Homo sapiens: one gene and its partners. The protein of the gene in region 2 purifies or fractionates together with the protein of the main gene of each other region. This does not show direct contact. Each region holds a gene or a part of one and is shown on either strand. Other genes may lie near its edges.

What was found.
Region 1: the proteins of ATF6B (region 2) and RWDD2B purify together in Homo sapiens (affinity purification with mass spectrometry; 3 studies listed by BioGRID and IntAct, with this or other methods). This does not show direct contact.
Region 3: the proteins of ATF6B (region 2) and LYRM7 purify together in Homo sapiens (affinity purification with mass spectrometry; 3 studies listed by BioGRID and IntAct, with this or other methods). This does not show direct contact.

Annotation. Positions count from the first base shown.
Region 1 is NC_000021.9:29,017,201-29,020,952, forward strand, and holds the start of RWDD2B (RWD domain-containing protein 2B), read right to left. Parts: upstream 2,150-3,752; 5' UTR 2,078-2,149; coding exon 2,011-2,077; exon of another isoform or gene 1,713-2,010; intron 1,048-1,712; exon of another isoform or gene 386-1,047; intron 1-385.
Region 2 is NC_000006.12:32,121,747-32,125,398, forward strand, and holds part of ATF6B (cyclic AMP-dependent transcription factor ATF-6 beta), read right to left. Parts: intron 1-3,652.
Region 3 is NC_000005.10:131,173,796-131,177,447, reverse strand, and holds part of LYRM7 (complex III assembly factor LYRM7), read right to left. Parts: intron 1-3,652.

The DNA of each region.
Region 1 (3,752 bases), on a different chromosome or scaffold from region 2:
TTTCAACAAATGTTTCTCAAGCACTTACGTTCAAGCACTGGCACTAAGATAACAATGAATGAAAGTAATAAAACAACTCTACTGGTGGGAGGATACCATGACATCAAAAACAAATTTATACGCCCAGCCCAGGTGCGGTGGTGGCTCACGCCTGTAATCCCAGCACTTTGGGAGGATGAGGTGGGCGGATCACCTAAGGTCAGGAGTTTGAGACCAGCCTGGCCAACATGATGAAACCCCATCTCTACTAAAAATACAAAAATTAGCCAGGTGTGGTCGCCCACGCCTGTAGTCCCAGCTACTAGGGAGGCTGAGGCAGGAGAATCGCTTGAACTGGGGAGGCGGAGGTTGCAGTGAGCTAAGATCATACCTCTGCACTCCAGCCAGAGCAACAGAGCAAGACTGTCTCAAAAAAAAACAAAAAAGAATTTTTGTACCCAGTGAATAACTGCTATGAAGAAACCTGAAAAAGAAAACAAGGATAAGGGAAACAATGAGGCAGCAGGGGTGAGACTGCACACAGCATTGTCAGGAAAGGCCTTTCTCCTAAGGTGACTGTAGGGAAGAGACTTTAAGGAACTGAAAAAGGAGGCCATGTGTTTTTCTTGGCCAAGAGTGTTCAAGGGAAAGCGAACAGCATATTCAAAGGCCTTGAGGAAGGAGGGTGCTAGAACAGCTGGCCAGAGCACAGTGAGCTGAGGACACGGGGAATAGAAGAGTTTAGTAAGGAAATGTGGGGCAGTTTATGTTGGGACTAGTAAAGCATGGCCAGAATTTTGAATTTTATCCCGACTGACATGTAAGAGCTACAAGAGAGGTTTGACTTATGAAGATCCCCACACTTGCTGCTATGGAGAAAAGTGAAAGGAAAAGTGGGGTGACCAGATATAGACACCGCAATAACTAGGGAGAGATGATGGTGGCTTTGATAGGATTATAGTGGTCAAGTTGGTGAGCTTCAGGTTCTGGATACATGCAGAGAACAGAGGCAACAGGATTTACAGATGAATTACATGAGACACGGAAGAATGACTCCGGGGCTTTAAGGTACTGAAAGTATGGATCTGCCATTTATTTAGACGTTGATGGTCATGGGGAGCTGAAGCTTGGTTTTAGACACAAGTAATGAAGTGCCTACTAAGACACCTGTTAAATAGAGAGGTCTAGCAGGCAGTTAGATGTATAGTTTTGAAGTCTACGAGAGACTCAGCTAGATATATAATCTTGGGAGTCAACACTTATTTGGAACTATATATTTGTTTAAAGTCTCCCAGGGAGTGAGTAAAGTTGGGAGAGGGTGCTATTGAATTGGAGGTATCGAAGATGAAATGGGATTAGCAAAGAAGAACGGGACGGAGGGACTCTTGAACGGACAACTACGGGAGTGATGTCACAGGTCATTTATCTGCCAAATTATTTTCGCTTAAGAGATTTCAGTCCTTCCAAAAAACCCTCAAGATAATTTTATGATTCAAGATTTCAGCGAATGCTGTAAGATAATAGACTGTGGCCGGGCGCGATTGCTCACGCCTGTAATCCCAGCACTTTGGGAGGCAGAGGAAGGGGGACTGCTTGAGCCCAGGAGTTCAAGATCAGCCTGGGTAACATAGTAAGAGCTCGCCTTTATTATTTTTTTAAAAAATAAAATATATTTAAGAGAACGCAGACTGAAACTTGAGATTTCTGAGTGGAATAATATCTTTTCCTTGCAGATTTTTTTTTGAAGAACAGAGCAGGGTACCCCGCGACCCAAGCCAAGACGCTCTCAGGAAGAAAGCCCAGCACGCAGCCGCCCTCGCACCCTGATTGCCCCCGGGGCGAGGTCCCCGGCTGGAGCAGGGCTGCAGAAGCCGGGAAGCAACGCCGAGGACCGAGCCGACCGATGGGCGCATGCAGTGAGGGGAACCGGGGCCGCCATGCCGGGCACGTTCCCAAAGGGTTGCACTGGGCGCTGCAGCGTGGGAAACCCCCGTGGCGGTCACCACTGGCGCTAGCTGAGGCGAGACTCACCTTGAGCCGTGGCCCCCTCACTGCTGTAACCCGGGTTCCATGGCTGCATGGACAGCTCAATTTTCATCAGAAGGGAGCCTCAAAATTCTAGCATACTGCGACCCAAAACTTACAAACCGCCTCAGCTGGCGACCTACCGGAAAAAAAAAAAAAAAGCATGCGGCGCATGCGCGTCCAAGGCCGCGGACCGGAAGCTGGGGCTCGCCTGTTGGGAGCCGCGTCCGCCGGTGTTGGTGTCTGCACTTGGAAGGACGTAGGGAATGCGTTGTCCCTGCTAGGTACTTTTCAGTCGCAGAGTTCTCTTCTTCTTCTTTCTTTCTTCCTTTTTTTTTTTTTTGAGACGGAGTCTCGCTGTGTCTCTCAAGCTGGAGTGCAGTGGCGCGATCTCGGCTCACTGCAGCCTCCGCCTCCTGGGTTCAAGCGATTCTCCTGCCTCAGCCTCCCGAGTAGCTGGGATTACAGGCGCCCACCACCATGCCCAGATAATTTTTGTATTTTTCAGTAGAAATGGGGTTTCACCATGTTGGCCAGGCTGGTCTCGAACTCCTGACCTCAGGTGATCCACCGGCCTCGGCCTCCCACAGTGCTGGGATTACAGGCCTGAGCCACCGTGCCCGGCCGGAGTTTTTCTACTTAATACCTCTCCATGCCAACCCCGTTGTCATTTCCCAGCGGCCGCCTCTATAACGGGCACTTTTCAGGGACAAAGAATTGGTCCGTTAATGTTCCTCAAATTCGAACGCGCCTAGGAATAGTTCGGGGATCCTGTTGAAGTGCAGATCAGGATTCCGTAGGTAGGGGTGGGGTTCCAAATTCTACATTTCTAGTATCTTCCCACACGATGGTGATCCTCCTTGTCCCTGAATCATGGAGGAGGGCAATTAGGGAGATGTGAGCCTGGATGCATGGTGGCCTTGGCTATCTTAGGTGTTCTTGCCCATTAACCAAGCTGGGAGGAACCGTGTGAATGCATATCTATCCCTGTTAATAAAAGGGTAGTTTGAAGGAGATGCTGACAGGAGAATAATTAGAAATGTTTTTCTTCCCAATCCAACTATATGCAATACACTTTATAATATTCATTTTAGAAATGTCATAGATAAGATTTGTAAACATTGACATTTAGCAATACTAAATATCACTGCTAGGTCTCCCCTCCACTTTTTTTTTTTAAACAAAAATACGACAGTATGTATTGTAGGTCTTCATAAACTACGTCTTCTGCATAGTGTTTCATGAGCGTTTTTCAATGTCATAATTTATTTTTTCCTCCAACATTTATTATGAAAAAATTCAAGTGTAAAGCGAAGTCGAGAGAATTTTACAGTGGAGCAGACCTCAAGAGAAGGGGAAGGATGGATTTCCCCTCTATTTAGCAGTGTCTGAAGACATTTTGGGTTGTCACAACTGGAAGGATGGTATTGGCATGGGGTAGGTAGAGCACAGGGATGTTCCTCAACTTCCTACAATGAACAGGACATCCCCCGACAACAACAAATTTGCTGGTCCAAAATGTTGATAGTGTTGAGGTTGAAAAACACTGACCTGGAGAGTACAGAATTTTACTCTACCAGCTTTGTCACATACCTCATCAATCTATCTGTTTTCATACATTTAAAAGTAAACTGCAGACAGTACGCTTCTAAGTACCTCTAATGCACATCATTGGAGTTCAAATTAAGGATTTTTTAAGGTAAAAATGAAATGCATACCTTAAATACACATCAGTTTTTAAATGCACA
Region 2 (3,652 bases):
CTTTGAACCTGAAAATAAAACTCTTCTGGCCCTAGATTACAGGCCATCCAGGAGGGGCAGTCACAGAGCTGCTCACCTGCTGGCTCTCCGCCCCGCTTTTCGCCTAGTGCTTCCCTTTCTCCTTTAGTGGCTCCTCTGATTTTTCTCATCCCTGCTCCATGTTCCTCAAAGCTGTCTTTGCCCTTCTGCGTTTCCCTCTTTCTTGTTCACAGAACTTGTCTATTCACATAGAATAGGCCTGAGCAGGGGAAGTGGCAGGGGGGTCTCCAGCATTCACATGGCCCAAATTCCTATCTTGCTGGATTTCCACCTTATCCCTGCCCAATGCATCTCCATGCTGACAACCGCCAAGTGTGCATCTCCCCCTGGCTGCTCACCTGCACCAGATTCTGACTTCCAAGCTGCCTGCTGGTCCCTTCCATTCTCATGCCTCACCAGTCACCCAAATCTAACTGGCCATAAATGAGGCTTCCTGATTGCCCCGTCACACAAGTTTTCCTCCCAGGCACCAAACAGCAAAGCCTCAGTCACCTCTGAGCCTCCATGGCCTCCAATAAATCTGCCTTTATGACTTGTTGATCACTCCATGAAAGAAAATGCTAGGCCCCATGTCGGTGAAATAAAACCCTTCTGAGGGCCAGATTCAGCCCACAGGTCAACAGTCCACCACTACCTCTGGTCCATACCGTTCACTTTGGTACTTAATTATATGATCACTAAGATTGCTTTTTAAAACTTCAATTTATATTTTTGAATAGATAATACAGTCATGATACAAATCCAAACGAACAAAGGAAAATTAAGTCAAAAAAAAAATCTTGGCGGGGCACGGTGGCTCACGCCTGTAATCCCAGCACTTTGGGAGGCCGAGGCAGGTGGATCACGAGGTCAGGAGATCGAGACCATCCTGGCTAACACGGTGAAACCCCGTCTCTACTAAAAAAATAGAAAAATTAGCCAGGCGTGGTGGCGGACGCCTGTAGTCCCAGCAACTTGGGAGACTGAGGGAGGAGAATGGCATGAACCCAGGGGGCGGAGCTTGCAGTGAGCCGAGATTGCGCCACTGCACTCCAGCCTGGGTAGAGCGAGACTCTGTCTCAAAAAAAAAAAAAAAAAAAACTTCCCTTCCCGGTCCTCCAGTCACTCAGATTCCCTACACAGAGATAACCACTATCAGAACTATTTAACCATGGCTGGGCATGGTGGCTCACGCCTGTAATCCCAGCACTTTGGGAGGCCGACACCCAACGCAGGTGGATTGCTTGAAGCCAGGAGTTTGACACCAGCCTGAACAACATGGCAAAACCCTGTCTCTACCAAAAATACAAAAAAATAGCCGGACATGGTGGCACGTGCCTGTAGTCCTAGCTATTAGGGGGGCTGAGGCAGGACAATAGCTTAAACCCAGGAAACGGAGGTTGCAGTGAGTGGAGATCACGCCAATGCACTCTAGCCTGGGTGACAGGGCAAAACTCTGTCTCAAAAAAAAAAAAAAAAAAAAAAAAAAGGGAACTATTTAACCATGATGTATTATAACCCTCACAAAACTCTCCAAAAGCAAGAACTATGTCTCATGTCCATTGAGGGTAAAGTACAGGCCCTCAAAAAATACCTAAGTATGGAGGAGAATCTGACTCTAATAACACTATGCAATGCAAAGCCACCAACAATCCTTACAATCCTTTTGCTGCTAATAGCAGTGGGCGATCTCGGCTCACTGCAAGCTCCGCCTCCCGGGTTCACCCCATTCTCCTGCCTCAGCCTCCCGAGTAGCTGAGACTACAGGTGCCTGCCACCATGCCTGGCTAATTTTTTGTATTTTTAGTAGAGATGGCGCTTCACTGTGTTAGCCCGAATGGTCTTGATCTCCTGACCTCGTGATCTGCCCGCCTTGGCCTCCCAAAGTGCTGGGATTACAGGTGTGAACCACTGTGCCTGGCCTGCTAATGGTATTTCAATCCTTATTTTGTGTATCTTTTTTATAACATGTATTAATCTGCTAGATATAATCTGTTTGTCCCTCCAAATCCACTTTCCATCCCTCCCTGCTGTGCTCCCTGAGATCCAGGGAGAATCTGAATGGACTGCATCAGCGGGCTCCCTGGTTGGAGTTCAGCCAGTGAGAGATGGTGCCAGGAGATCCAGAAGGTACTTTGAAATCAACAATCAACATGTCAACTGGGCATGGTGGCTTACGCCTGTAATCCCAGCACTTTGGGAGCCAAAGTGGGTGGATCACCTGAGGTCGGGAATTCAAGACCAGCCTAACATGAAAGAAGCCCTGTCTCTACTAAAAATACAAAATTAGCCAGGCGTGGTGGAGCATGCCTGTAATCCCAGCTACTCAGGAGGCTGAGGCAGGAGAATCGCTTGAACCCAGGAGGCAGAGATTACAGTGAGCCAAGATCACACCACTATTGCACTCCAGCCTGGGCAACAAGAGTGAAGCTCCATAACAACAACAACAACAGAATCAACATGTCCAACGCTGAATTCATCATCTTCCCTGACCAGAAAGCCCCTGCTTTTGCAGTCTCCATCCAGTGAACAGTAACATCACCCACCCACAGCCATCCTAGCCACAAACCTCTTTGACTCCTACCTCTCTCCAATGTCCAGGAGGTCACAACTCATCTATTCCACTTCATTCTTTCTCAAGTCTGCTTTCTTCATGACATCCGAATATCTTACTTGATCAACTGCATAAGCTTCTTCCTTGGTTCTCTTGCCTCTGGCCCTGCCCCTCTGCAACCCATTCTCTACTTTGCCACTAGAATCATCTTCCTAATCATATTACTTCCCTGCTTAATTCTCCAAAGGCCCCCACCTATCCACAGGATAAAAGCTAAGAGCCCCTTAGCAGGGGCCCCACCTGGCCCTGTAGCCCCTGCAGTTCCACATCACTCCCCAAATCCTTCTTACATCCACTCTGAAGAAATGCAGGGTCCTCAGACACAAGTCAACCCCCACACTGTCCTCCTGGCTAATTTCTACGTGTCCTTTAAAACTCTCAGGAAACCCTTCTTCCAGGGGCACATCCCAGATTCAGCGCCAATGTGGATGAAATGTCCCCTCTTATGAGCTTTCATGGTACCCTCTAGTGATTTTTTTTTTTTTTCCAGACGGAGTCTTGCTCTTTTGCCCAGGATGGAGTGCAGTGGCGTGATCTCGGCTCACTGCAAGCTCCGCCTCCCGGGTTCATGCCATTCTCCTGCCTCAGCCTCCCAAGTAGCTGGGACTACAGGCTAATTTTTTGTATTTTTAGTAGACACGGGGTTTCACCATCTTAGCCAGGATGGTCTCAATCTCCTGACCTCGTGATCCGCCCACCTCGGCCTCCCAAAGTGCTGGGATTACAAGCATGAGCCACCACACCCAGCCCCACCTCTAGTGATTTCTATCCTAGAATGACCACACCTGTATTGACTGGTACTTGTCTTTCTCCCATTACCAAATCACAGGGTTTGAAAGTCAGCATGGTGGTCAGGTCTTGTTCATCTTTGCATTCCCAGCATGCTGCTCAGTATCTGGCATGGAGTAGGTGCTTAATAAATATTTCTTTTTTATAATTATTATACCTCAGATATGATCACATCAATAAACATTTACTAAATACACAGCTACGAGTAAATAAACTTGGGAACACTTTAAA
Region 3 (3,652 bases), on a different chromosome or scaffold from region 2:
GCAAAGTCTCTTATCTGTCATACACACTTTATTGGAAAGCTACAGAAGAATATCCTCCACCAAAATAAGGAAATGAATCACAAAAGGAAAAGACATGGGAACCCAGGAGACAGGTAGTCTAACATGGGAGAGGCAAAGACCATGGGGAAGGACAAATGCTAGTCAACATTTGTGCAGCCAGACTAGAAAGCAACTAGGCAGGACTATAGCAAAAGACTGAATTGCTCCAGGAAAGTTATTGCAAGGAAAAATGAAACTGGTAGACTGGTTTTGCCTAGAATTTGGGAACAGATATCTAGGATATCTATTAAAGGATATTTTTAAAAAGTAATAATTTTTAAAAGGCAGTTATTAATTTAAAGATGAAGAAATGGGAAAAAAGACAATCATATAATGTACTTAAAGGGCTCAGCTGTGGGTAATTTTTATAGCAATAATAACATCAAAGATGTTAAAGTACTAGGTGCTAGTAGAACTGTGAGGGCAGCTGTTTGCTTTATAGGACACAAATGAGAAAATGTGGTGTATATATACATCATAGAATACTAAAAAAGAATGAAATCATGTCCTTTGCAGCAGCTGCTGGAGACCATTATCCTAAATGAAATAACTCAGAAACAGAAAATCAAATACTGCATATTTTGACTTATAAGTAGGTGCTAAGCAAAGGGTACGCCTTTGTGGATAGAACGCCAAAAGGGAGACGCCAAAAGGGAGGAGGATAGGAAGGGGTTGAGGGTGGAAAAATTACCTATTGGGTACAATATTCATTATTTGGGTGATGGGTTCACTAGAAGCCCAAACCTCACCATTATGTAATTTACCCATGTAATAAACCTGCATATGTACTCTCTGAATCTAAAATAAAATTAAGAAAAATAAAAAGTCAAAGAATTTGAATAGATATTTCTTCCAAAAAAAAAAAAACCCATAAATGGCCAATAAGCCATAAAAAGATGTTCAATGTCATGTGCCATCTGGAAACACAAATCTAAACCTCAATGAGATACCATTTCATCCCAGTAGAATGGCTACTGTAAAAAAGACAGTCAATAAAAAGAGTTGACAAGGACATGGAAAAATAGGAACTCTTATACATTGTTTGGCATTTAAAATGGTACAGTTGCTTTGGGAAACAGTTTGGCAGTTGCTAAAAAAAGTTAAACCTACAGTTATCTTATGACCCAGAAATTCTACTACTAGGTATATACTCAAGACAAATGAAAACATGTTCACACAAAAACATGTATGCTAATGTTCATGGTAGTATTATTCATAATAGTGAAAAAGTAGAAATAACCTAAATGTCCATGAACTCATGAACGGGGAAGTAAAATGTGAAATATCCTTATTAATAAGAGCTTAATTAGCTCTTAATAAGCTAACGCAGGCTGATGCAGTGGCTCACGCCTGTAATCTCAGCCCTTTGGGAAGCTGAGGTGGGTGGATCGCTTGAGCACAGGAGTTCAAGACCAGCCTGGCCAACATGGTGAAACCCTGTCTCTACTAAAAAATACAAAAAATTAGCTGGTGTGGTGGTGGGCACCTGTAATCCCAGCTACTTGGGAGGTTGAGGCAGGAGAATTGCTTGAACCTGGGAGGTGGAGGTTGCAGTGAGCCGAGATGGTGCCACTGCACTCCAGCCTGGGTGACATCGAGATTCCATCTCAAACAAAACAAAACAAAACAAAACAAAACCAGCCTGGGCAACATGGCCAAACCCTGTATCTACAAAAAATAAAAAAATTAGCCAGGCGTGGTGGAGGGTGCTTGTAGTCCTAGCTACTCGGGAGGCTGAGGTGGGAGGATCTCTTGAGCTTGGGAGGCAGAGGTTGCGGCGAGCCAAGATGACACCACTGCACTGCAGGCTGGGTGACAGAGTGAGACCCTGTCTCAAAACAAAACAAAACAAAACAAAACAAACAAACACACCCAAAAAAGGCCGAGCGTGGTTGCTCATGTTGCTCATGCCTGTAATCCTAGCACTTTGGGAGGTCAAGGCAGGCAGATCACCTGAGGTCAGGAGTTTGAGACCAGCCTGACCAACATGGAGAAACCCCATCTCTACTAAAAATACAAAATTAGCCGGGCATGGTGGTGCATGCCTGCAATCCCAGCTACTCGGGAGGCTGAGGCAGGGGAATTGCTTGAACCTGGGAGGCAGGGGTTGTGGTGAGCCGAGATTGCGCCACTGCACTCTGCCCTGGCCAACAATAGCGAAACTCCATCACCAAAAAAAAAAAAAAAAAAGAGATTGAAGCTGGTGACTTTGAGTTGAAGCCAATAATTTGTCATTCCAAAATCCTAGGACCCTTAAGAATTATGCTAAGTCTACTCTACCTGTGCTCTACAAATCAACAAAGTGCATCTGTTTAAAGCATGGTTCGCGGATATTTTAAGCCCACTGTTGAGATCTGCTCAGAAAAAAAAAGATTCCTTTCAAAATATTACTGCTCACTGACAACACACCTCATCACCCAAGAGCTCTGATGGAGATGTAAAAGGAAATTAATATTGTTTTCATGACTGCCAATACAACATCCATTTTGCAGCCCCGCAGGTCAAGGCCAAGTAGTAATTTTGGCTTTTAAGTCCTTTTTTTTTGAGACAGGGCCTTGTTCTGTCACCCAGGCTCGAGTGCAGTGGTACGATCATGGCTTACTGAAGTCTCGATCTTCTGGGCTCAAGCGATCCTCCCACCTCAGCCTCCAAAGTTGCTGGGAGCACAGGCGCATGCCACACATTGAGCTAATTTTTGTACTTTTTGTAGAGACAGGTTTTGCCATGTTGCCCAGGCTGGTCTTGAACTCCTGACTCAAGCAATCTGCCCACCTCAGCCTCCCATAGTGCTGGGATTAGAGGTGTGAGCCAGACTTCTAAGTCTTATTTAAAAGACTCATAAGGCTATAGCTGCCATAGACAGTGATTCCTCTGATGAATTTAGGCAAAGTAAATTGAAAACCTCCTGGGAAGGATTCACCATTCCAGATGCCATTCAGAGAATTCAAGAGAGGAGGCCAAAATAGCAACAATAACAGGCATTTGGAAGAAACTTATTTGAACACTCATGGATGACTTCGAGGGGTTCAAGACTTCAGTGGAGGAATTAACTGCAGATACGTGGAAAGTGCAAGTGAAACTAGGATAAGAAGTGGAGCCTTAAGATGTGACTGAATTGCTGCAATCTCGATAAAACTTAAATGCATGAGGAGTTGCTTCTCATGAATGAGCAAAGAAAGTGGATTCTTGAGTTTATGAAGATCATCACTCACATCACTTCACCCCTGGTGAAGATGCTGTAAACATTGTTGAAATAACAACAAAGGATTTAGAATATTATATGAACTCAGTTGATAAAGTAGTGGCTGGGGTTGAGAGGATTGAATCCAATTTGAAAGATGCTCTACTGTGGGTAAAATGCTATCAAACAGCATTGCATGCTACAGATAAATCTTTTGTGTGTGAAAGAGTCAATCAATGTGGTCAACTTTACTGTAGTCCTATTTTAAGAAATTGTCACAGTCATCTTAACCTTTAGCAACCACCAATCTGATCAATTAGCAGCCATCAACATCGAGGCAAGATCTTTCATCAGCAAAAAGATTACAACTTTCTGAAAGCTCAAATAATTGTTAGCATTTTATAGCAAAAA